5 linked regions of the Homo sapiens genome follow. The protein of the gene in region 1 interacts with the protein of each later gene in a pairwise test. Each region holds a gene or a part of one and is shown in the gene's direction. Other genes may lie near its edges.

What was found.
Region 2: the proteins of ZNF239 (region 1) and SPRED1 interact in binary tests that used the Homo sapiens proteins (3 or more experiments, as listed by UniProt).
Region 3: the proteins of ZNF239 (region 1) and WFS1 interact in binary tests that used the Homo sapiens proteins (3 or more experiments, as listed by UniProt).
Region 4: the proteins of ZNF239 (region 1) and MTUS2 interact in binary tests that used the Homo sapiens proteins (3 or more experiments, as listed by UniProt).
Region 5: the proteins of ZNF239 (region 1) and KRTAP10-6 interact in binary tests that used the Homo sapiens proteins (3 or more experiments, as listed by UniProt).

The regions. Positions count from the first base shown.
Region 1 is NC_000010.11:43,557,238-43,561,879, reverse strand, and holds part of ZNF239 (zinc finger protein 239), read left to right. Parts: intron 1-3,708; coding exon of another isoform or gene 3,709-3,800; coding exon 3,801-4,642. UniProt on the Homo sapiens protein: May be involved in transcriptional regulation.
Region 2 is NC_000015.10:38,258,869-38,263,510, forward strand, and holds part of SPRED1 (sprouty-related, EVH1 domain-containing protein 1), read left to right. Parts: intron 1-4,642. UniProt on the Homo sapiens protein: Tyrosine kinase substrate that inhibits growth-factor-mediated activation of MAP kinase. Negatively regulates hematopoiesis of bone marrow.
Region 3 is NC_000004.12:6,275,761-6,280,402, forward strand, and holds part of WFS1 (wolframin), read left to right. Parts: intron 1-1,690; 5' UTR 1,691-1,695; coding exon 1,696-1,927; intron 1,928-4,642. UniProt on the Homo sapiens protein: Participates in the regulation of cellular Ca(2+) homeostasis, at least partly, by modulating the filling state of the endoplasmic reticulum Ca(2+) store.
Region 4 is NC_000013.11:28,826,086-28,830,727, forward strand, and holds part of MTUS2 (microtubule-associated tumor suppressor candidate 2), read left to right. Parts: intron 1-4,642. UniProt on the Homo sapiens protein: Binds microtubules. Together with MAPRE1 may target the microtubule depolymerase KIF2C to the plus-end of microtubules. May regulate the dynamics of microtubules at their growing distal tip.
Region 5 is NC_000021.9:44,590,142-44,594,300, reverse strand, and holds KRTAP10-6 (keratin-associated protein 10-6), read left to right. Parts: upstream 1-1,795; 5' UTR 1,796-1,816; coding exon 1,817-2,914; 3' UTR 2,915-3,033; downstream 3,034-4,159. UniProt on the Homo sapiens protein: In the hair cortex, hair keratin intermediate filaments are embedded in an interfilamentous matrix, consisting of hair keratin-associated proteins (KRTAP), which are essential for the formation of a rigid and resistant hair shaft through their extensive disulfide bond cross-linking with abundant cysteine residues of hair keratins.

The DNA.
Region 1 (4,642 bases):
ATTTTTTTCTTTTATTTTTCAACTATGGTTTTGGGGTTTGGGGGTTTTTGTTTTGTATTTTGTAGAGAGAGTTTTGCCGTGTTGCACACACTGGTCTCGAACTCCTGAGCTCAAGCAATCACCTCACCTCAACCTCCCAAAATGCTGGGATTACAGACATGAACCACCATGCCTGGCCTAATTATGTATTGTATTGACTTCTTGGCTTACTGCTATTTCTTGCAGCATGTATCCTTTTTCTTAAATTTTAAAAAATTTTGCTATAGTATATTCCTGAATGATTGTTTTAGTAATTGAATCTTTTCGTGTCTGAAAGAGTGTCTATTTTTTCCTCCCACTGAAATGGTTAATTGGCTGGGTAAAAATTATAATTTCACAATGACTTTTAACCCAAAATTTGAAGATATTGAAGATTTGCAATATTGCCAATTAGTTGTTCAGTGTCAATATAATTCTCATTTATTTGCACATAACCTGGCTTTTCTGTTTGGAAGCTTTTAGCATTTTCTGTTTCTTTGTTTGTTTGTTTGTTTGTTTGTTTGTTTTTTCCTTGAAGTCCTGAGGTTTAAAAGAGTATGTTTAGTTTGGGGTCTTTTTACATACCATTTTTTAGCATTTATTGGGCCCTGAATCTTGAATTCTAGGAAACATTTTTTTGTTATTATTTCTTTGATCATTTTCTCTCCCTGTGTTCCATCTTCACTGTCCTCATGCAGCTCCTTGAAGATGGGCTTTTACTTTTATCTTTCTATTTGTCTGTCTTTTCATTTGCATTCTTGGAGAATTCCTCAATCTTCCATCTTAGCCATGTGTTCATTTTACTATTTAACTCATCTAGATTGCAGGCGTTTGACTAAAACAGCCTGACACATATCTAGGAAACAAGTGACATAACCTATCATCATCTTCAGTCATTTTATTTAGAATTATTATTTTTCATAGCAATATGTTTATATTTTATTATTAGATTGTGTTTAAATGTGATATCCTCTCCAGTTTTTCTGGGATTTTAATTATGTACCTTTTAAATTCTGTTGGTCTCCTTATATATTTTTTCAAAATTCTTGTGTTCTCAGCATGATATTGGAGTGTGTCCTCAACCCATGCTTGACCCACTTTGGCATGCATATGTGTTTTACTTTAGGGGACACTTCTGCTGATTGGGCTAGGGAGGGAGGTAATAAGAATCCAGATGGTGGATATTATAGGCCTTTTTTTTTTTTTTTTTTTTTTTTTTGACAGTTGGCAGAGCTAGCTGAGGTTTTATTTTGGGAAAAAGAAAAAATTTGAATTGTTTTGTAGCTGGATACATGGGCAAGGGGACTACCCAGGCAGTAAACTGGCCCCACGGATGGGCTAAGGGCTAGGGCTGAGCCTCAGGTGGGCCTCCTATTCCCTGTACTCCCCTGCACAGTGGTGTAGGCCATTTTTTAAGTCCACCTCTTTTGCCACTGAGTTATCTGGGGCATGCCCTGCTTCTTTATTTCCAGCGCTGGGCTATCTTCCTTGTCAGAACTCCCATTAAAAAGTTTAGCTTGAAGTTTTATCCTGGGCACTTATGTTGTCAATTACTTCTTTTTTGTACCTTAATCCATTGGTCATTGTGTACGTTCAACATTACCTCAACCTCTGCTTCTCTCTTCAGTCCAGTTAATATTATTAGCAGTCTTTCTTTGGCAGATCATTTATTTTATTCTTGAGGCTTTATATGAGGGCACTGCTGCTAGCCATCCAATATTTCTATTTCTAAGAGGAAGAGGGTGGGCTGGGAGAGTGCTGCTAACAGCAAAAACTAGCACAGCTGTTAGGAATGCCTAAGTTGAATTAGGAAATGTCTTACTTTATCATTGTTTATTATTTTCTGAGACATAGACTCCAGAGAAATGGGGTCAGTGCTCCCTTACTTTGTAATTATTGATTCTGAGTTTGGTAATTGAATTTCTATGATTTCTTAGGATGTTTTACCCACGAAGAAGCCTTCTGTTATACATAATTTGAGCTGTACATTTTTTTCCCCTAGTTCCTCCATCACTCCTAATCCATCTGCTCCTTATCATTTAGGAGTTCCTCAATGTTTTTATTCTGATGATATCAGCCTTTCTGTTTTCCCAAGAGTATTATGGATTTCTTGTCATTTCAGTGTAATATTAGGCTATTCACTCTAATTGTTTAAGTCTCGGGGAGGGTTTTGTTTTTGTTTTTGTTTTTTAATATACCAGTAAGTCTAAACTCTGTATTCCTAGCACAGTTCTCTCACAGGAGTTCCAGACCTATATATATCTCACAGCTTACGGACCAGTACTGCAAGAATGTTCCACCAACACCACAGATTATACAAGGCAGTTCTGCTGCCTTCCCTACTTCAGCCTCTTCCTGTTGCATTTCCTATCTGATTATATAGCACCACCATACCGTCACTCAGGCAGGAATCCCAAGGAACAGGCTTGGTGCCTCCTTTCTCTTCTAGGTTTAGTTTATCATCACATGATCTAGAATGAATTTCTCCTATTCTCTCCACAACTATCATCCTTACCGTTTTTCTTCTGATTTGCTATGGCAGCCGTCTCGCTACCTAAAGTCTTGCTTTCCAGTGGTGTTTATTGTCACAAAGTCAGTCATTTCACTCTGAATTAAAATTCTTTAATAGTTTTCAATCCCTTCAGGGTTTAGCCCCAAGGTCCTTATTATTAGACACTAAGCCCTTTGCTCTGTCCTCTTACTTCCCCTCCGTGGCACATTCTTCACCACTCTTACTGTTTTTATCTCCTTCGTAAGAAGCCGCTTGTAGTTTTCTTTAACATGTCATATTTTCTCTCCACATTTCACTTCCTTTTTTTTGTTTGTTTTTTGTTTTTCCTGTCATTTTCTCCCAGAAATCTTCCTAAACACCAGGGTCTGAGTTGAGTGTTCCTCTGCTGTGCTTTCGTGGCTGGTTAGGCATACATCTCTTGTACTGTATTGTACTATACATTCATCTACACCACTCACTTAGTATTATCATTATTTGGTGTATTTGTCTTCCCAGGAAGCTTTAGCTTGTTAAGCAAAAGGATTTATATTTTCTTCCTTGTATTCCCCACACCTATGAAAGCAGAATACCAATTAAATGCAAATTTACTTAAAGGAAAGTAGGCCGGGTGTGGTGACTCATGCCTGTAATCCCAGCACTTTGGGAGGCTGACGCGGATGGATCACTTGAGGCCAGGAGTTGGAGGCCAGCCTGGTCAACATGGAAAAACCACACCTCTACTAAAAATACAAAAATTAGCTGGGCATGATGGCATGTGCCTATAATCCCAGCTACTTGGGAGGCTGAGGTGGGAAAATTGCTTGAACCTGGGAGGTGGAGGCTACAGTGAGACCAGATCACACCACGGCACTCCAGCCTGGGCAGCAGAGTGAAACTCTGTCTCAAAAAAAAAAATGAAGTGAGATGAGATGAAATGTTATTGTTAGCAAGGATATAGGACTTACAGCCTTCTATAGGATTAGTTAGGGAAGACTTTCCTTGGCTATGCTTAAAAGCCAAGAGAAAATTTCTGTCTTGTACCCAGATACAAATGTACCTGACCTTAACCCAAAGGACATGACTATAAAGACAAGCTGAACTTTTTCCTAGTTACTAAGACTTCAGGCCTTAGGCACTCTCACTCTGAAATCTTGAAGTCTACCCTTTGTTCTTACCACTGAATTGTCTTTGTTCCCTAGGAGACTTGAATGAAAATTCTGTGGAGAATCTTCAGCAGAAAACACTTCAGGATCTGTTACATGAGCTTTCCTCCTGGCTAGTTTTGGAAGGCATGGCCAGTACAATTACTGGAAGTCAGGATTGTATTGTGAATCATCGAGGGGAAGTGGATGGGGAGCCTGAACTAGATATTTCCCCTTGTCAACAGTGGGGAGAAGCATCTTCTCCTATTTCCAGAAACAGGGACAGTGTGATGACTCTTCAAAGTGGTTGTTTCGAAAACATTGAAAGTGAAACATATTTGCCTTTGAAAGTCTCAAGCCAAATAGACACACAAGACTCTTCAGTGAAGTTCTGTAAGAATGAGCCTCAGGATCATCAGGAAAGCAGACGTCTCTTTGTAATGGAAGAAAGCACTGAGAGAAAAGTGATAAAGGGGGAAAGTTGTTCAGAGAACCTTCAAGTTAAACTGGTGTCTGATGGACAAGAACTGGCCTCGCCATTGTTAAATGGTGAGGCAACTTGCCAGAATGGCCAGTTAAAAGAATCTTTGGATCCCATTGACTGTAACTGCAAAGACATTCATGGATGGAAATCACAGGTGGTCAGTTGTAGTCAGCAGAGAGCTCATACAGAGGAGAAACCCTGTGACCATAATAACTGTGGGAAAATACTTAACACCAGCCCAGATGGTCATCCATATGAGAAAATCCACACTGCAGAGAAACAATACGAATGTAGTCAGTGTGGTAAGAACTTCAGTCAAAGCTCAGAGCTACTACTTCATCAGAGAGACCACACAGAAGAAAAACCCTACAAATGTGAGCAATGTGGGAAGGGCTTCACAAGGAGCTCGAGTCTGCTTATCCATCAGGCAGTCCACACAGATGAGAAGCCTTATAAGTGTGACAAGTGTGGGAAGGGCTTCACCAGGAGCTCAAGTCTGCTCATCCA
Region 2 (4,642 bases), on another chromosome or scaffold:
GAACACTGGACTTGAAATTGGGAGATGGATTTCTTTTGTAGCTATTTTTAATTTATTCTCTAATCCTGGGCTCTGTAGGCCTCAGTTTGCTGATTTATAAATTAAAGAATTTGGACTAAGCATCATATGTGCCCTTCCTTTGTTGATGGTGTATGATTTAGACTTTGTTAATTTTATTATATTGTTATTTTTGACATACTTAAACAAAAGACTTAAGAGTAGAAGTGGTAGGAAGATTAGGTAAAAGCATGCATTTTGAACAATTAAGATACAAAATTTGGAAACAATTGGTATATTAATAGTCTTTTAAGACTTACTTTGGGCTTAATAGCCATGTATCTTTGATGACACAAAATTTTGTACTACTCAATTTTGTTTTTTATGTATTTATTTATTTTAAAGAGGCAGGGTCTTGCAGTGTTGTCCAGGCTGGAGGGCAGTACAGTGGTATGATCATAGCTCACTGCAGCCTTGAACTCCTGGGTTCAAGTGATCTCCCACCTGTGCCTCTTAAGTAGCTAGGACGACAGGTGTGCCACCACACCTGGCTAATTTTAAAATTTTTTGTGGTGATCGGGTCCTGCCCAGGCTGGTCTCAAATTCCTTGGCTCAAGTGATCCTCTTGCCTTGGCCTCCCAAAGGGCTGGGATTACTGGCATGAGCCACCATGCACAGCCCTCATTTTAAAAAAGAGAAAAAAAGTATGGCCTCCATCTGTGGATGAATAAGTAAACAAAGGCTATTGGGCTTAAACACCAACTTGATTAGTTCTACAAGGAATATGCTAACAAGATACCAGTCTTTATGCTTTACTTACAGAAGTAAGTTTTTTACTAGGTCACTTATACAAATCAGTAATGTAACACTAGGGGATAACTGTATATTAGTTTAAGAAGTTAACTCAGGTAATGAATTTTGTTATTCTTTAATGTTTAGATTTATGATAAGTATTATGTCATAGCTGCATCTCAGAATCCAGAACCAAAATTATTACATATCTGTGAGATTGTGTTTTTGCGATACTCAGAATGAAAAACAGTTCATTAATAATGGATTTCACGCTAAGGTATTATGTTGCTGTAGACAAAGCATTCTTAAAATTCAGAGTGTTTGCGGGCTTGAAGGAAAATGTGACGTTCTTACTAATCTCAACCTGAACATTCATAATTAAAGGAAGTGTTAACAAGCTATGACAGTATTAGAGGTACTTGTGACAGCAAATGTGTTAGTTTTTATTGCTGCTTTAACAACGTACTACAAATTGGGTGGCTTAAAAAGCAACAACAAGTTTATTGTCTCACAATTACTAAAGGTCCAAAATCAAAAAGTTGGCAGGGCCATGTTCCCTCTAAAACCAGTAGGGGAATCCTTTCTTTTGTCTTCCTTGCTTCTGGTGGTTGTTGGGAACCTTTCACATTCCTGAGCTTGGAGCTGCATAATTCCATGTCTTCATCATCACATGGCGGTGTTCTCCCTGTGTGTTTCTATCTTCATTTGAGTGATACCAGTCATTGGATTAGGAGCCTACCCTACTGCAGTATGACCTCATCTTAACTAATAAGGTCATGGGGCTAGGACTTCTACATGTATTTTGGGGGAGACACAGTTCAACCCATAACACCAATAGAAACTACGGATTTTTTTTTTCTTATAGCACAATTGCTGTTAGCTGTTACAGCTATCTTGAAATACCATTTATAGTCATCACTAATTTGAAATTATTATAGTTATTAAAGCTATTGCTAGAGCATATATTTTAAAGTGTTAATAAAGAACCGCATTATTACCATATCAAAATGAAAAATATTTCAATAACTATGTCAATATAATTAATTTCTTTTGTAATACTGTGTATGTTGTTTTAGGCCCCTAATATTGTTCTGAGAAAGGGGTCATAAGCTTTACCAGGCTGCCAAAAACATCCATGACACAAAAGGCTAAAATCTTCTGCAATGGACAGAAGCCCAGAAGCCTGAACCCAAAGATAGAGATATAAAATAGGAAGAGTAAGAAACATGAGGATAAGATGAGTAACTCCAACATACAGCTAACAGTTCCAAAAGAAGAGAATAGAGGAGACGAAATATTACAAATAGTGGCTGCAAATTTTTAAGAACTAGCAAATCAAACCTCACTCAGCGAACTAGAACAAAACAAAGCCTCACAGTCAAATGGGGTTTATCTTGAGGATGTAAGAATGGATCAACATGAGAAAAGCAGTGCATTTTATCACATTTGAAGATTAATGGAGAGAAATGATACGATCTTAATAAATGCCAGAAATGTCATTTAATCTCTGCCCATAATAAAGTAAATGTTCATAAATATAGAGACAAATTATTTTTCTGCTCTCTAGAATTTCAGATTTTTAATTTTTCTGATTTAAAACGAGGGTGTGGGATTTACTTAACTTTGGGATTTTAGTCCAAGAGTTCTAGAATCATAACTGATTTTTTTGTACTTCTGAATTAATATATCATTTCTGTTACTCAGATGTAGGATTGACTGGTGGAAATTGCCTTGTGTCTGAAATTTCTGAATTACCTTGCAAGGCATTTCTTTCTGTGTTTGGAGAGCAAAGAATAACCTTTAGTAAATTCAAGAGTAATTGGAATTAAATTTCAGCCTAATATCAGTTTAATAATTTTATGTCTAAATTTAATCTGTATGACAGGAGTTATAATTTGTTTTTGTTTTTGTTTTTGTTTTTTTAATTTATTTTTTAGACGGAGTCTTGCTCTGTCTCCCAGGCTGGAGTGCAGTGGCGCCATCTCGGCTCACTGCAAGCTCCGCCTCCTGGGTTCACGCCTTTCTAACAGGAGTTATAATTTGGATAAAGGCCATTATGAACTTGGAATGTGGAATGTAATTCTTTTTCCTGGTAGTATTTAGTGATACTATTGCATGTGATTAAACACATTTTGCTTGAGCTGTTCATGTAGTTAGGAATTACATTCACAAATACAGTGTTTTTTAATGACTTCTATATATTAGCATCCCGTGGCAGGATTGCCAAAAATTTAGATAAAATTTAGTGAGTTGTGTCTTTTCTGATGCCACTTTTTCAAAGTTACTGTAACTTTTACCACTTCAGAGTGTTTTTATTCACTTCAGCACAGTCACCAAACTCTTTTTTTTTTTTTTTTACTGTTTTATTGTGTTATTTTTATACTGTGAGATTGGGGAGTTCTGGGGTTTCCCCCCTTAATATGTAAAAGCAGTATTAAACATTTCAGAATTTTAGTTGCTGGATTATATATATTGACTTTTTACACTTTCAGGATAGATTTGAACAGGGACCATTAATAACTTTTTCCTAAAGAAATTCAGTTCAGTGGCATTTGAATGAGTGCTTACTAGGCACTTGACTTTTGCCTTAGCTTTGGAGATACAAAGATAATTAAAACTTTAAAATCGCTATCACAGTCCACAAGGGAAATAGATACTTCTGAAATGTGATGGGTGTTCTGGTTATAAAGTTCTTCAAGGCTCAAGGAGAAAGTGATTCTACCTGGGAGTTGGTGGCAGGATGGTGACTGTGTGAAGGAAGGCTTCAGGAAAGAAGTGGCATTTTAAGAGTCAGCCATGAATGAGAGCATGGAATGGGGGAAGGGTATTCCAACCAGGAAGAGAGGGGGCAGAAGACAAGCACAGAAAGAAGAAAAAGTTGGAGGAAAGGCAATACCTTTTTGGATACAGTTGTTTGGAGGAGTTGTTAAGGAAAGTGTTGAGGGACCAGATTGTGAGTAGTGTAGATTTGTGCTTACCTGTATATCACCAACTGTGGGGCAAGGGATGGTGGCTAGGCCTAAAATATGAGACACAATATGAGCATGGCAGAAGCCCCTGGAAATCAGTTTTTCTTGAAAAGTTGAATATTTATCTGACTGGTTAGTAATAAGATGAATTTTGAACAGAGTTCCCATTAATTTTATAGATGAAACACCGAAGAGTTGAAAGAAAATTTGTTCTTTGAGCTACCTTCCCTCCTCACCACAACTATCTTTAGTCAGTAAGGATACTTAATGAGAGACACCAGGTGAAGTTTTCATCATGTAGACAGTGGCGACTCAGTATTTTAAGTGAGGGAATGATAATCCAATTTGTGTAAAGCAGGGCTTCTTAGGACAGTTGACTGGAGGGAGAAGAAAATGAACTTCAGTTGATGAGGAAGAATGTAGTAAGACAACAAAACAGAGCTGGGAATAGAGCATTTGGAACTATTGGGGACTCATATGAGAAGAAATTCAAATGTCCAACGATTATTTGACTGAATGTGAAGGAAGGAGTAGGAAGGTTGTGGGATGACTTGAACATTTTAAATTTAGGCCGCTGTAATGCTTTTAAATGAAGGTGGGAATAGAGATGAACCCGGTTTTTTAAATGGGAAAATAACCCAGTTTTGATCTTTTTTAGTCTGGGTGCTTACTGGATGTCAAGGTAGAAAGTGTCCAACAAGGTGCTTTAACTATAGGTTGAGTTCTCAAAAAGGTTAAGAGGGTAGAGTTATAGTGACATCTTCAGCATATATAGTAGTTGAGGCCAGTGGAAAATTTCCCATTGAGAATATTAAGTAATAATGGAAAGATGACAAGTGAGAAACAGCAGTGTTTTTAAGGGAGAGTAGAAGAAAGAAGAGACG
Region 3 (4,642 bases), on another chromosome or scaffold:
AGAAATTGTTGTGTGTGGAGCCTGGGGCCACTCCTGACTCTTCCAGTCACAGCTGCCCCCAAAAGTGACCTCTGGGCACCTACTCAGACCTGGCTGCTCAGTGCCAAGCGCTGGGTGTTCAGAGGTGGCCAGGGGACTCCCTCGTGCTGCCCATGGTGTCTGGTCTCACTGGTCCTCACAGTTGCCCCGTCCCCATTTTCAGATGAGGAGGCTGAGGTGCAGAGCGGGATGTGGGCTGCTCAGGACCACACAGCTGGTGGGCACAGAGCCAGGAGTACAGCGCTGCGGCAGCTTGGGGCTGGGAGCGAGACTCTCTGTTACCAGCCTCTCCCTGCTCTGTGCCTCAGAGGATGGCTGTGGCCCTGAGCTTGGGAGGGTCATTTGGGAATCTGAGGAAAAGTTTCCACAGCCTCACACAGCAGCAGGTTCAAGGTCCAGCAGTGCCAGGGGTTTGCATCCCACCCCTAACGCCGCTCATCCAGGGCCCATCCGGGTCCGGGGCTCGGGATCCTGCAGCGCTTTCAGCTCTGTGTCTGTGGCCGGTGGTTGTCCTTCATTACAGGGATGGTGGTGTTTTTCCATGTTGCTAAGCAGCATGTGAGGGCCTCTGTTGAATAAAATAAAGCCCTTGCTCCGGCGTGACACGGGTCACGGGATCTCTGCTCACTCTAGTCTCTTCTGATGCCCCCACCGCACTGTTTGCCTTAGTTTGCTTTTTACTCTCTGTGTTGGTTTCTGGGGCATCAGTCCTCTGACTTCGGTGCTGTGGCTTGGGCCTGGGGTGGGGGCTGTGGAGCGGCAGATCTGGGTATGAATCCCAGCTCCACCCATTTGGCTCCCTCTCTTCTCTCCCCTGCCCTCTTCTCCCCTCCCCAGCTCCCTTCCCCTCTCATATTTACTTAACTTTACTCAGTACCAGCGTATTAGTTTTCTAGGGCTTCCGTAAGAAACTACTGGAAACTTGGTGGCTTAAAACAACAGAGGTTTGTTCTCTGATGGTTCTGGAGGCAGAAGTCTGAAGTCAAGGTGTGGGCAGGGTGGGTCCCTCCTGGAGGCTCTGAGGGAGGCTCAGTTCCTCGCCTCTGTCCAGCTTCTGGCAGTGGCCAGTGGTCCTCCTGCTCCTTGGCCACTGTCACCCGTCTCCGCATGGCTCTGTTACACTTCTCTTCCTATAGGCCATCAGCTCTTGGAGCCAGGGCTTCCCTACTCCAGGCTGATCTCATTTCAAGATCCTTAAATACATCTTCAAAGACCTGTTTTTCCAAATAAGGGCACATTCACAGACATTGGTGGGCACATGATGTGGGGCCCAATTCAGCCCCCTGCAGCCAGGCTCCACATGGGTGGGCTCTGGGTGTTGCTATCATCATCCCCGTTTCTTGGATGAGGGAAGGCCAGGGTTGTGTGGCTCATGCCCAGTGAGGCAGGGACTCCAGGCCTCGGCATGTGCAGGTCTGAGATTGTAAGTGCCATGCCATCTGTAGAGTCACGTGGGTGAGTGTCCTCCCATGGTTTCCTCCCTGGAAGCGGTGCTGGCCCATGGGGACTGTACTGAGTGTCAGCGAGATCCTGTATGGAGTGTCTGGCAGCTCCCACCTGCCTCCCTCTGCTTTTCTGTCTCCAGCAGACACTAAGTGCCAGAGCGGGCTCTGCCGGTGCTGGATGTGCCTGACCTTGACTTTTCTTCCAGGCAGGATGGACTCCAACACTGCTCCGCTGGGCCCCTCCTGCCCACAGCCCCCGCCAGCACCGCAGCCCCAGGCGCGTTCCCGACTCAATGCCACAGCCTCGTTGGAGCAGGAGAGGAGCGAAAGGCCCCGAGCACCCGGACCCCAGGCTGGCCCTGGCCCTGGTGTTAGAGACGCAGCGGCCCCCGCTGAACCCCAGGCCCAGCATACCAGGAGCCGGGAAAGAGCAGACGGCACCGGTAAGGGAGCAGGCTGGGAAGCCCAGGCTGGGGATGTTCAGGGATAGCTGGGTGGGAACGGGGTTCAGCCACCCCTGGAGGGTCCCCCCGCCAGGTCCTCTGCAGTTCAGCATTGTGCAGCTCCCATGCTGTGCACAGGCGTCCATCCAGTGGGGCTACCCACCTCCTCAGAGCCTTGCACCTGTCACCTTTGTGGCACCCACTCGAGGTGGTGCTGGTGCCCCCACTCCTCTGCAGTCCTTCTCTTCCCAGGGCCTCTGCAGCACTTCACAGCTTCCATTTGCAACAGCGTCCAAACATGTGGAGTAAATTCACGGGCCCTCTGTAACCAACTAGGGTGGCAGGCCAGAGGTGACAGCCACACTCTCGGGAGTGAGGCCACATGCGGGCGAAGCCCTTGGTGCTGAGTTTCCCCTCTCCCTGAGGGAGACTTGTGAGGGACGGGCGTCCTTCACCTCCATCCTGAGGCGGGATGCTGGGGCCCTGGGTGTTCACAGGCAGAGCTGACTGAGGCCCTTGGTCTTCACAGGCCGAGCTGACTGAGGCCCTGGGTGTTCAAAGCAGAGCTGAGGCCCTTGGTGTTCACAGGCAGAGCTGACAGGCTTGTTGGTTCCTGGGTGGTGATGTGAGGGTGGTGGGTGTGAGCCAGGGGAGTCCGGCCCCTGGGCACCTTCTCCAGCTGACTCAGGCCTCGGTCAGCCTTCACTTTTGCTAGAGAGGCCGCTGCCAGGGAGGCTCAGTCCCAGCTCATCACTGCCCCTCCTGCCCATGCAGAAGCCCCAGACCCATGGTGAGTGCCTGCTGTGTACACCAGCCTTTTCCATGTGCCTGCAGGACTCCTCATGGCAGTCCTGAGAGGGGAAACTGAGACACCGAGTCTAGGTGACTTGCCCAAGAGACCCAGCGGGTGAGAGACGAGGTGCTCGAGTGGTCCAGGTTTCCTTCTTGTCCCAGTCACCCCACTGGCAGGGCCGTGGGGCCTCCCTGCTGTGGTCGCAGCGCGCTGAGGCTCCCATGTACCACTTATGCTGGGCGTGCCCTTGGAAACTCACTGCAGCCCTGGGCCCTGTTTGTCTTTGCATCTCCTTAAAAGATCACTGTGCTCCTCTGCTTTGTTTTGGAGGCCTCTGGGCGGATGAGGGCCTGACCCCGGGATTTGGGCCCAGCCTCACGGCTTCAGGGGAACAGATACCAGGGCTCGGAAGCTTGGTTTCAATCTGGGTAATGAGAACAGCCCGCAAAGGACAGAGTCCAAGACTGTGTGTTTCAGATAAGAAGAGTCAGGAAGCAGCTGTGGTTTGTTTGGCTTCGGTCTCCAATGTGGGGGTGGTGAAGAGCAAGCCCTGGGCGCCGCCTGACAGCCCAGTCCCCACCACTGGGCCTGCAGCTGGGGGCAGTGGGCATCCCGTCTCCCAGTCACTGGTCACTGATGTGGCCAAAGCAGGCCTGGCCCTGCATGCCCAGTGGCCGCAGGGAGGGCAGGGCCCAGGGTCCCTGCCAGTAGCAGCTGCTGCGAGAATCTGTTATTTAGCTCCCCCATCCAGCCAACATAGGTGGGTGAGCATCAGTTGAAATACCAATAGGTAACAACAAGGGTAGCTATTTAACTGACACTTCCCCGAGCTAGGCATCTTTTTAGGGCATTAGCCCACTTGCCTCTTTAACAGCCCTGGGAGGCAGGCTCTGCTGCTGCCCTGTTTTTCAGATGGGAAACCGAGGGATAGAGGGCTTAAGTAGATGACCCAGCGTCCCGTGGTTGGTGAAGGGTGGAGGGGAGATTTAAACATACCGTGGAGCCTGTGCTCACTATGGGCCTCAGGTCATCTGCGCCCAGGGATCCCCATGTCCCAGGCTCAGAGAAGTGCACAGAGCAGGTTGGCCTGTCCCTAGATCAGTGCCTGGCCAGGCCCTGGTGACAGGAGTGAAGGCTCAGTCCTGCCCTCCGGGAGCCCTGAGCAATATGGGAGACAGGAGTGAACAAGGAACTACATTCTGGGGCTCATGTAGCGCGGGGGACAACCCACATTGCAGTCCCCTAGGGGCACCCCAGGAGGGCCTGGTCACTCTTCAGGGCATCAGGAAGACTGCCTGGAGGAGGCATCGTCGGAGCCCCATCTGAGCTGCTCCTTGGCCTGTACACTTGGGAAACAGGAGAAGAGCAGCCTTGGGGTTGCCCTTCTCTGGTTGCCTCCCTGAGGAACTGACCCCCTTTTCAGCCCTTCATTCAGCAAGGCTGGGGAGGGGCTGCTTCAGAAACGTCACTGGGCTGGAGCCCCACACTTCCTTCCCATCCTGGCTCTGTGGCCTTGGCAAGTCACCTGCCACCTGGGGAACCACTGCCAACGGGTCGGGGCTTGGAAGCTCAGGGGCTCCTGGGCCCAGACAGGTAAAGGAAACAGTGACTCCGGCTAGAAAGGAGACTGCAGGGAGTTGTGAGGCTCTTGGGCGTCCCTGTGCCAGGGCGGGACTCCTCATGGCAGCCCTGAGAGGGGAAACTGTGTCCTGTGTGGAGCGTGGATGCCCACGTGCTGAGAGGTGTTGTCTGTCCTGATTTTTGACAGCAGCCCAAGTGATGTGCCAGTGGGCCAGGGCCGGCACCTGCCTGTCGGTGGCTGCCCCAGGGCTGATGGGCAGGGGCCGTTTCTTCACAGGCAGCTGTGGTGAGTCCTGTGATCACCTCAGTGTTGTCTCCAGCCCTGGGGGGATCTGTTGTTC
Region 4 (4,642 bases), on another chromosome or scaffold:
ATGTTGGTTGTATTACATATAACCAATAATTGATATATAGAAAGCTATTCTAAAATGTAATGTAACCAAGCACTTTTCAAGCTCTTATTAATTATAACCTTGTTTTGTGGTTATTTTCCTTGGATTTTCCAGATAGATGGTCATATCATCTGCTAAATAAGTAAATAAATCAATAAATTTAAAATACATGGTTAGATGAATGAATAGATAAAAAATGATTACTTTGGTCTCTTTATTTCTATTTTTTATTATCAGACTAGATAGAAGACGAGACTGTTTATCTGTTGAGAGATTTTAAAAACAAGATTATTGTATTTCAGCCAAATGTACTTCCCTTGTCCCAGAGAGGATAGGCTATATGATCTCTGAGGTCCTCTCCTTATTAGTCTTTTTACTCTGTTTACTGTAGACCCATTGTACCAGTATGTTCAGTTCCCATAGAAAAACAAAAGAGTGTTTACACACAGTCATTATAGATAAGCCAGCAGTGTGTGTGATTAGGGCCAAACCAGTATTGATGATGGCCTGATACTGACTTTAGAAAGTTTGACTCACCTTGCAGAAATGAAAAGCCAACATAATGCATTAGCGTCTATGAAGACTGTAATAAGGCAAATACATTTGTCCAGAAACAGGCTGATATTGATACACTGATTTTAAGTGCTTTTCCCCAAAAGTACAATAGAGAAAGCCAGGAATATATAGCCTTGGATTACAATAAATGATAATAAAACAGCAGAAGCAAATAACACTTAATAGGGAAGTTTATTTTCCACACTTCATCAGATTGCTACTGCAGAGTACTAGTCTAAAAATTTAATATGAACACTAGCTCTGTAAATACGGGAGAAGTAATCTCAAATCATCCTGAATTAATTATCTTTGTGCTAAGCTGTTTGACATTACTCATTGAAAATAGCTTCTCAAGACAGGCAGTATTTTTCTACACACAAATAATTGTGTTCTCAGGTTGGAAATGTTGCCACATATTAAGCCAAACACATTTTTTTGCTTCTAATTCTTATATTACTATCAGTTTATTTCAGGGAAAGTTAATTTGAGAATTGAAATCATGTAGCAGAATAATTTTGGTTGAAATTGATGTTTCTAAGCCTGATGCATTTTCCATTAGTGTTACATGGTATCATTGGAAGTTTGTACAGTGAACATGCCAAACATTAGGTTTAGTTTTCTGAAGACTCTAGCAAGTATTCTTTTTTTTTAAATCCACATTGTATTAGTTTAACTGGCAGGTAGTAATTAGTTTTATATTGAGTGAGCTAATTTGCCACTACTAGCAGATTTTGAAGTTATTTTAATATAAATACATTGTCCTCTACCCCCAAACTTTATACTGAAATTTTTCTGCTAAATTTTAGGATTATAATTTTGATAATGGCCCAGGATATTGGAATAAAATATAAATGTGAGTTAGCATTAATATCTCAGTTTAGAGAATAACAATAAAAGCAGGAATGTGACCTGCAGCCACATTTCTTCAGTATCGGGGGAAATTCAGCCCCCAATATTTGACGTGGGTCCTTTTCTATTTTCCCTAAGTATTGGCCGGTCTGAGAAATAAAGGGAAATAGTACAAAAGAGAGAAATTTTAGAGCTGGGTGTCTGGGGGAGACATCACATGTTGGCAGGTTCCGTGATGCCCCTCAAGCCGCAAAACCAGCAAGTTTTTATTAGTGATTTTCAAAAGGGGAGGGAGTGTACGAATAGTGTGTGGGTCACAGAGATCACATGCTTCACAAGGTAATAAAATATCACATGGCAAATGGAGGCAGGGTGAGATCACAGGACCGGGGTGAAATTAAAATCGCTAATGAAGTTTTGGGCATGCATTGTCATTGATAACATCTTATCAGGAGACAGGGTTTGAGAGCAGACAACTAGTCTGACCAAAATTTATTAGGCGGGAATTTCCTCGTCTTAATAAGCCTGGGAGCGCTACGGGAGACTGGGGCTTATTTCACCGCTTATCCACAACCGTAAAAGACAGACGTTCCCAAAGTGGCCATTTCAGAGACCTCCCCTTGGGAATGCATTCTCTTTCTCAGGGGTGTTCCTTGCTGAGAAAAAGAATTCAGCGATATTTCTCCTATTTGCTCTTGAAAGAAGAGAAATATGGCTCTGTTCTGCCAAGCCCACAGGCAGCCAGACTTTAAGGTTATCTCCCTTGTTCCCTCAACATTGCTGTTATCCTGTTCTTTTTTCAAGGTACCCAGATTTCATATTGTTTAAACAATTTGTGCAGTTAACACAATCATCACAGGGTCCTGAGGTGACATTCATCCTCAGCTTATGAAGATGACAGGATTAAGCAATTAAAGTAAAGACAGGCATAGGAAATCACAAGAGCATTGATTGGGGAAGTGATAAATGGCCATGAAATCTTCACAATTTATCTTCAGAGATTGCAGTAAAGACAGGTGTAAGAAATTATAAAATTATTAATTTGGGGAACTAATAAATGTCCATGAAATCTTTACAATTTATGTTCTTCTGCCATGGCTTCAGCCGGTCCCTCCGTTCGGGGTCCCTGACTTCCTGCAACACTCCAGGGTCAGCAGTAGAGAGAGGCTAGTTGAGCACTTGCCTCAGGTACAAAATTTAAGGGACACCAAGACACTTAGTAATACAAATAAATATTTTATGCATTTTAGAAAATCAAGATTAATGCAAAAAATCCATAATGAACAAAATATCAAAATTTTAAAGGAAGACAGGATCAGTATTACTGAGTTTTCCTTTTGTGTCAGGCTCCAGTTTGGTTTGTAATAGCACTGTTACTGATCCTATCTATAAAGTTTTAATATTTCGTTCATCATGGATTTTTTACATTAATTTTGATTTCCTAAAAATATTGCATTAATATATTATTTATCTTGGAACACATCTGAATTATTGGAGTAAAGACATTCTGAAAAGTCTCTCCTGCACAATAACAATGAAAGCACTGGCAAAAATATCAAAATAAACCATTTTAGAATGGTGGAAATTAACGAAGGGTTTATAACAATCTGAGGAATATTTATTCAAGAAAAAGGACTGAATCTCAGTAAGAACAGTGAACTTTGTCATTTTTAAACTTACCTTATTCCCATTCCTTCATCCGCAGCTCCATTGTAGCCTTCAAAACTAATAGCCTAAGTCAGGCACAGTGGCTCACACCTGTAATCCTAGCACTTAGAGAGGCTGAGACAGGTGGGTCACCTGAGGTCAGGAGTTTGAGACCAGCCTGGCCAACAAGGTGAAATGCTGTCTCTCCTAAAAGTACAAAAAAAAAAATTAGCCAGGCATGGTGGTGTGTGTATGTAATCTCAGCTACTTGGGAGGCTGAGGCAGGAGAATCGCTTGAACCCGGGAGGTGGAGGTTGCAGTGAGCTGAGATTGCGCCACTGAACTCCAGCCTGAATGACAGAGTAGGACTCCGTCTAAAAAAAAAAACAAACAATAACTAATAGCCTAGAAGCCACTGAAAGGGACAAAACAGGTTTAGAGCCCTCTAAGATCCCCAGTCTCAGAAAATTGTCACTATATGATTGCTCTAGAAGCTTCTTAAAAAACTCCATTCTCAAAGCTTGTTTTGCAGAGCCCTGTGGCATTTTTGGAAAACAATCAGCAGTAATTGTTTAACCTCTCAGCTGCCTGAGGCAGTGACACCAGTTGGGGTTAACAAGAGGTTAACCAAAAAACTTAAAAGGAAAAATTGGAAAAGGAGCTACCTATGGGGGCTTTAAAAACCTTTGATGTAGTCTTTGGAATCTAGAAGTCCCATGTCTGTATGTCCAGGAAATACTTAATAAGGCCTTAATCTGTCATCTCAGACTAACAATGAGGCTTTGCATAAGTAAAGTAGGAAGAGAAGACTAAGAGTTGTAAACTACCTGCTGGAGTGTTAAAAGCATGTACCCCACCCCCCAACACGCGTAATCCCTCAGCAAAGACAGAAATCTCTGTACCGTCATTAGCTGACCACTGAAGCTAGACTTCAGCAGCTGCACATGATAAACAAAGTAGACTTTACATAATTAGTCTGGGAAATAGCAATAGAAACAATAGTAGCAACAAATATAACAACAAACCTTTATGCAGAGTGGAATCTTATTTCTAGGTTGCCATATTTTTTTAAATCCAGTTTTCAACATAAAATTTCCACACACACAAGCAGTAGCATATGGGCCATAACAGGAAAAACAAAAGTATCCCTGAGAAAGTCCAGATACTGGACTTAGTAGACAAACATTTTAAATTAGCTATTATAAATGTGTTCGAAGAGCTGAAGGAAACCTTGTCTGAAGAATTAAAGTAGAAAAATGATGTCTCTTCAAATAGAGAATATCAATAAAGGGGGAAATTGTTAAAAAAGGAACAAAATAGAAATTATGGAATTGAAAAGTACAATGATTGAAATGAAAAAATTTACTAGAGAGGCTCATCAACAGATTTGAACTAGCAGAAGAAAGAATCGGCAAACTTGAAAATAAATCAATTGAAATTATATACTATGAGGAACAGAAAGTCAAAGGAATGAAGAGAAATGAACAGAACATCAGATTTATGGGACACCATTATGAATACCAACATATGTATAATTGAAATCTCAAAAGGAAAAGAATGAGAGTAAGGGGAC
Region 5 (4,159 bases), on another chromosome or scaffold:
CCTTCCCCACTTTACATTTGATTTCTCAATGGCAAAAGTTTCTTTCCTTTTATGTGTTAGCCATCCGTCACTTTTTCTTCCTCCCCTCTGACTTCTGTGAGTCTTATCACTCTTCCCAGATGTCTGTACTGTGTGGCTTGTCACATCTGCAAGGGAGCTGCCTGGACTTGCCAGGGCCTGTTTTCTGAATACGGACCACTTGAAATGTACTTCTTACAGGGTGGAGTCTTATCATGTCAATGGGTCGCAATGAGGCCCTAAACCTCAGAAGTCTTCTCAGGACACAAAGGCACTCCAGTGCACAGCCTCTGTAAACCGGCTGGAGCCAGTCCATGGTTGGGGGTCCCTTATCAGGAGGAGGTTCCTGAAGTCAGTCTCCTGCCCAGTCAGAGCTGTGGTCATGGCTGTGGAACGTGGTCAGTTGGCATCTGCTGGTGGATGAGCTGCAGTCGTTTGAACCTTGCTCATCCTCATCGCGGGGCCAGTGCGTGTTTAGCCACTGTAGAAAAACAGCAGCTGTGGCGTGAGAGCAGAGTCCGTCCTCTCAGTGTAGGGCACGCGGCTTGTCCCTTGCCTGGCGCGGCCTGAGGTCCTGTTTGTAATTTGATATCTTATTGCCAGAGTCTGCTCTGTGGGTCTTACGGTCTCTATTTTAACTTTAGTGCTGGGTAGTGGTTGTGTCGAAACCCTAAAGGGAGGGGGTGTAACGAGGCGTGTCTGACCTCCCTTCCTGTCATGGCCAGGAACGCAGTTTTTCGGGGGTCCCCGTGGGCAAGATGGGATCCATTTAGTCAGTTGAGGGGCTTAGGATTTTATGTTTCGTTTACACTGGCAATGGGTTTGCAGTGAGATCAACTTCTCATGGACCCATTTTGTGTCTTCTGTGCGGGTTCTTTGGACAGATGTCCCTTAATTTTAAGGTGGTGACACTAAGAGGCCTGGCACAGGGCTTGGAAGACAGGGCTGGGAAATGGGCCCAGCAGGAGGCTGGGTGGGGGCTGACGGGCAGCCTCGGAGAAGCAGAGCACACAGAGGAGCCACCCCAGGCGGGGACGAGGGCTGCTGACCGCCCGCTGCTCAGCACGGTTACTCTGCAGGTTCAGAACCCAAAACCACAGCCCAGAAGGCTGTCATGCTGTCCAAGCAGGGAGGGGCCAAGCCCACCGTCCTTGCCCTGGAACACACAGGTCCTGCTGCCTCCAAAACACAAAGACGAGGTGGACACGAAACAGGGCCGGAGGTGAAGAGGCTGTGGGGATGAGAAGTCGTCCAGAGCTCAAAGCCAAGAGGTCTGGGCACAGTTACAGCTGCCCCCCACCCCCACCATGCCATGGCCCAGGGCAGGTCAATGAAGGCTCATGGGCCCCAGGTTGTCCCTCAGAAGATGGCCACAGTCCTGTGTCCGGTGATGGGGGAAGGACCACGCTGGATGAGGGGTTTTCACCACAAGGACACTTCCTGAGGCCGGCTTCCTGCAGAGGGACTCTGTGTCCCGGGGCTGCTGGGGCCAGGGGTGGACGATGCCGCGACCTGTGGCTCTCCCAGCTCCCCGAACCCAGCTGGGACCAGGCCCCGCCCAATTCCTGCCGCCAGGGATCCACATGGGATGGGACACAGCCCAGATGTGATGGGAGATTTATGAGCTGGCCCACATCACGGGCGAACAAACACCCCTAATCCCGGCAGACTCCAGCTCTCGGCAACACGGAAGGGGAAGCTGTGGGCCCGGGGACAACAAGGCCAGGTGGAATAAAAGCCCGAGAGCCTCAGCACCTCACAGGCTCACTCCCTCACCCTCCACCAGTTCAACCCCAGCATGGCCGCGTCCACCATGTCCGTCTGCTCCAGCGACCTGAGCTACGGCAGCCGCGTCTGCCTTCCTGGTTCCTGTGACTCTTGCTCCGACTCCTGGCAGGTGGACGACTGCCCAGAGAGCTGCTGTGAGCCCCCCTGCTGCGCCCCGGCCCCCTGCCTGAGCCTGGTCTGCACCCCAGTGAGCCGTGTGTCCAGCCCCTGCTGCCCAGTGACCTGTGAGCCCAGCCCCTGCCAATCAGGCTGCACCAGCTCCTGCACGCCCTCGTGCTGCCAGCAGTCTAGCTGCCAGCTGGCTTGCTGTGCCTCCTCCCCCTGCCAGCAGGCCTGCTGCGTGCCCGTCTGCTGCAAGACTGTCTGCTGCAAGCCTGTGTGCTGTGTGTCCGTCTGCTGTGGGGATTCTTCATGCTGCCAGCAGTCTAGCTGCCAGTCAGCTTGCTGCACCTCCTCCCCCTGCCAGCAGGCCTGCTGTGTGCCCGTCTGCTGCAAGCCTGTCTGCTCTGGGATTTCCTCTTCGTGCTGCCAGCAGTCTAGCTGTGTGAGCTGTGTGTCCAGCCCCTGCTGCCAGGCGGTCTGTGAGCCCAGCCCCTGCCAATCAGGCTGCACCAGCTCCTGCACACCCTCATGCTGCCAGCAGTCTAGCTGCCAGCCAACTTGCTGCACCTCCTCCCCCTGCCAGCAGGCCTGCTGCGTGCCCGTCTGCTGCGTGCCTGTGTGCTGTGTGCCCACCTGCTCTGAGGATTCCTCTTCATGCTGCCAGCAGTCTAGCTGCCAGCCAGCTTGCTGCACCTCCTCCCCCTGCCAGCACGCCTGCTGTGTGCCCGTCTGCTCTGGGGCTTCCACATCATGCTGCCAGCAGTCTAGCTGCCAGCCGGCTTGCTGCACCGCCTCCTGCTGCAGATCCTCCTCCTCCGTGTCCCTCCTCTGCCACCCTGTGTGCAAGTCCACCTGCTGCGTGCCCGTCCCCTCCTGTGGTGCCTCTGCCTCCTCCTGCCAGCCCAGCTGCTGCCGCACGGCCTCCTGTGTTTCCCTCCTCTGCCGCCCCATGTGCTCCCGCCCTGCCTGCTACAGCCTCTGCTCTGGCCAGAAGTCCAGCTGCTGACAGCCCTGGATGTGATCCGGAGTCCCTTCCCACCAGGGGCTGACCTCCCAGCTGCCCCAGCAAGCTCTGCCCTCTCTGGCTTTGACACCCTCAGAAGATGGGGCAGGCTCTTTGTCTTAGGGACCAGGATGCTCCCCCTGTCCTTCCCAGATGCTGGCTGCATGAGAGACCCCAGCTACTCCCCCAGACCCAAGTTCTGCAGAACTAACCCCCAGCAGGCCTGGTTCCACCCTGGGCAGCACCCCCTCTAGTTCTAATAAAGCCGCCTCTGTCTCACACCAACCTCTGTCCTGTCTGTGGACCCCCGGGGGGCACAGGGTGAGGTGGGAAGTGATGCCACCCCTGACTGCAGGGAGAGTCCTGACCCCCAGCAGGCCTGGCTCCACCCCTCTGTCTCTGTCGACTTTTCATCCTGTCTGTGGACCCCCGAGGGGCATGGGATGAGGCAGGAAGCAATGCCTTCTGGTGCTGGCCTCTGTGAACCCTGAAGGCCAGTCTCCCTCTTAGCCCCGTGGGCCCCCAACCCCAGCACATGGCCCCCCGGCCCATCTTAGGAAAGCTGCCTCTGGAACCAAGGCCAGGAGTTTCGGGACAAAGTGGACCCTGGCAGCACTCTGGGCCCCTGAGCCACATTCACCCTCCCCAGCTCATGGCTGCCCCCCAGGACTGGGGTAGCCCACCCGGGGCCTAGCTCCAGCCAGCAGCCTCACCCCTCCTGTTACCCCTGGGGAGACCAGCTATGGACCACAGTGCCCATCCCTGCAGCCCTCATCTCCTCCACAGTAAGACATGGGGACCACGCCCTCCCCCAGGACTCGAGCCCAGCAGCCCAGTATTCGTGGGGTTCTGGAATACCCATTGCTCAGGCATCGCTGGCGAGAACACAGATGGGCAGGGACCATGGCACCCACTAACCAAGCCTGCGGGCCCCCCTGCCCCATGCGGCCTCGCCTAGACTTTCAGGGTCCTGGCTCCCTCCTGGTCCTGTGGTCCTGGACTCTGACCCCGAGGACCCTGTCCCCACACCCCCAGCCTCCTAGGTCTCTCCAAATAGCCCTCAGCTCTGTCTGCCACCCTCCGCTCTGGCACTCAGACGTGGTCCACGATACCGCGTTGGGCGAGTGGTACGAGCCGCTGCACTCTTTCTGCCAGGTCGCTGTGTGCATTTGAGAGCCCAGGTCTGCCTCCTGCCCCAGCAAATGACCCTTGCATGTCAACGCCAGAGGCGACCAGCACCAGCAGGAG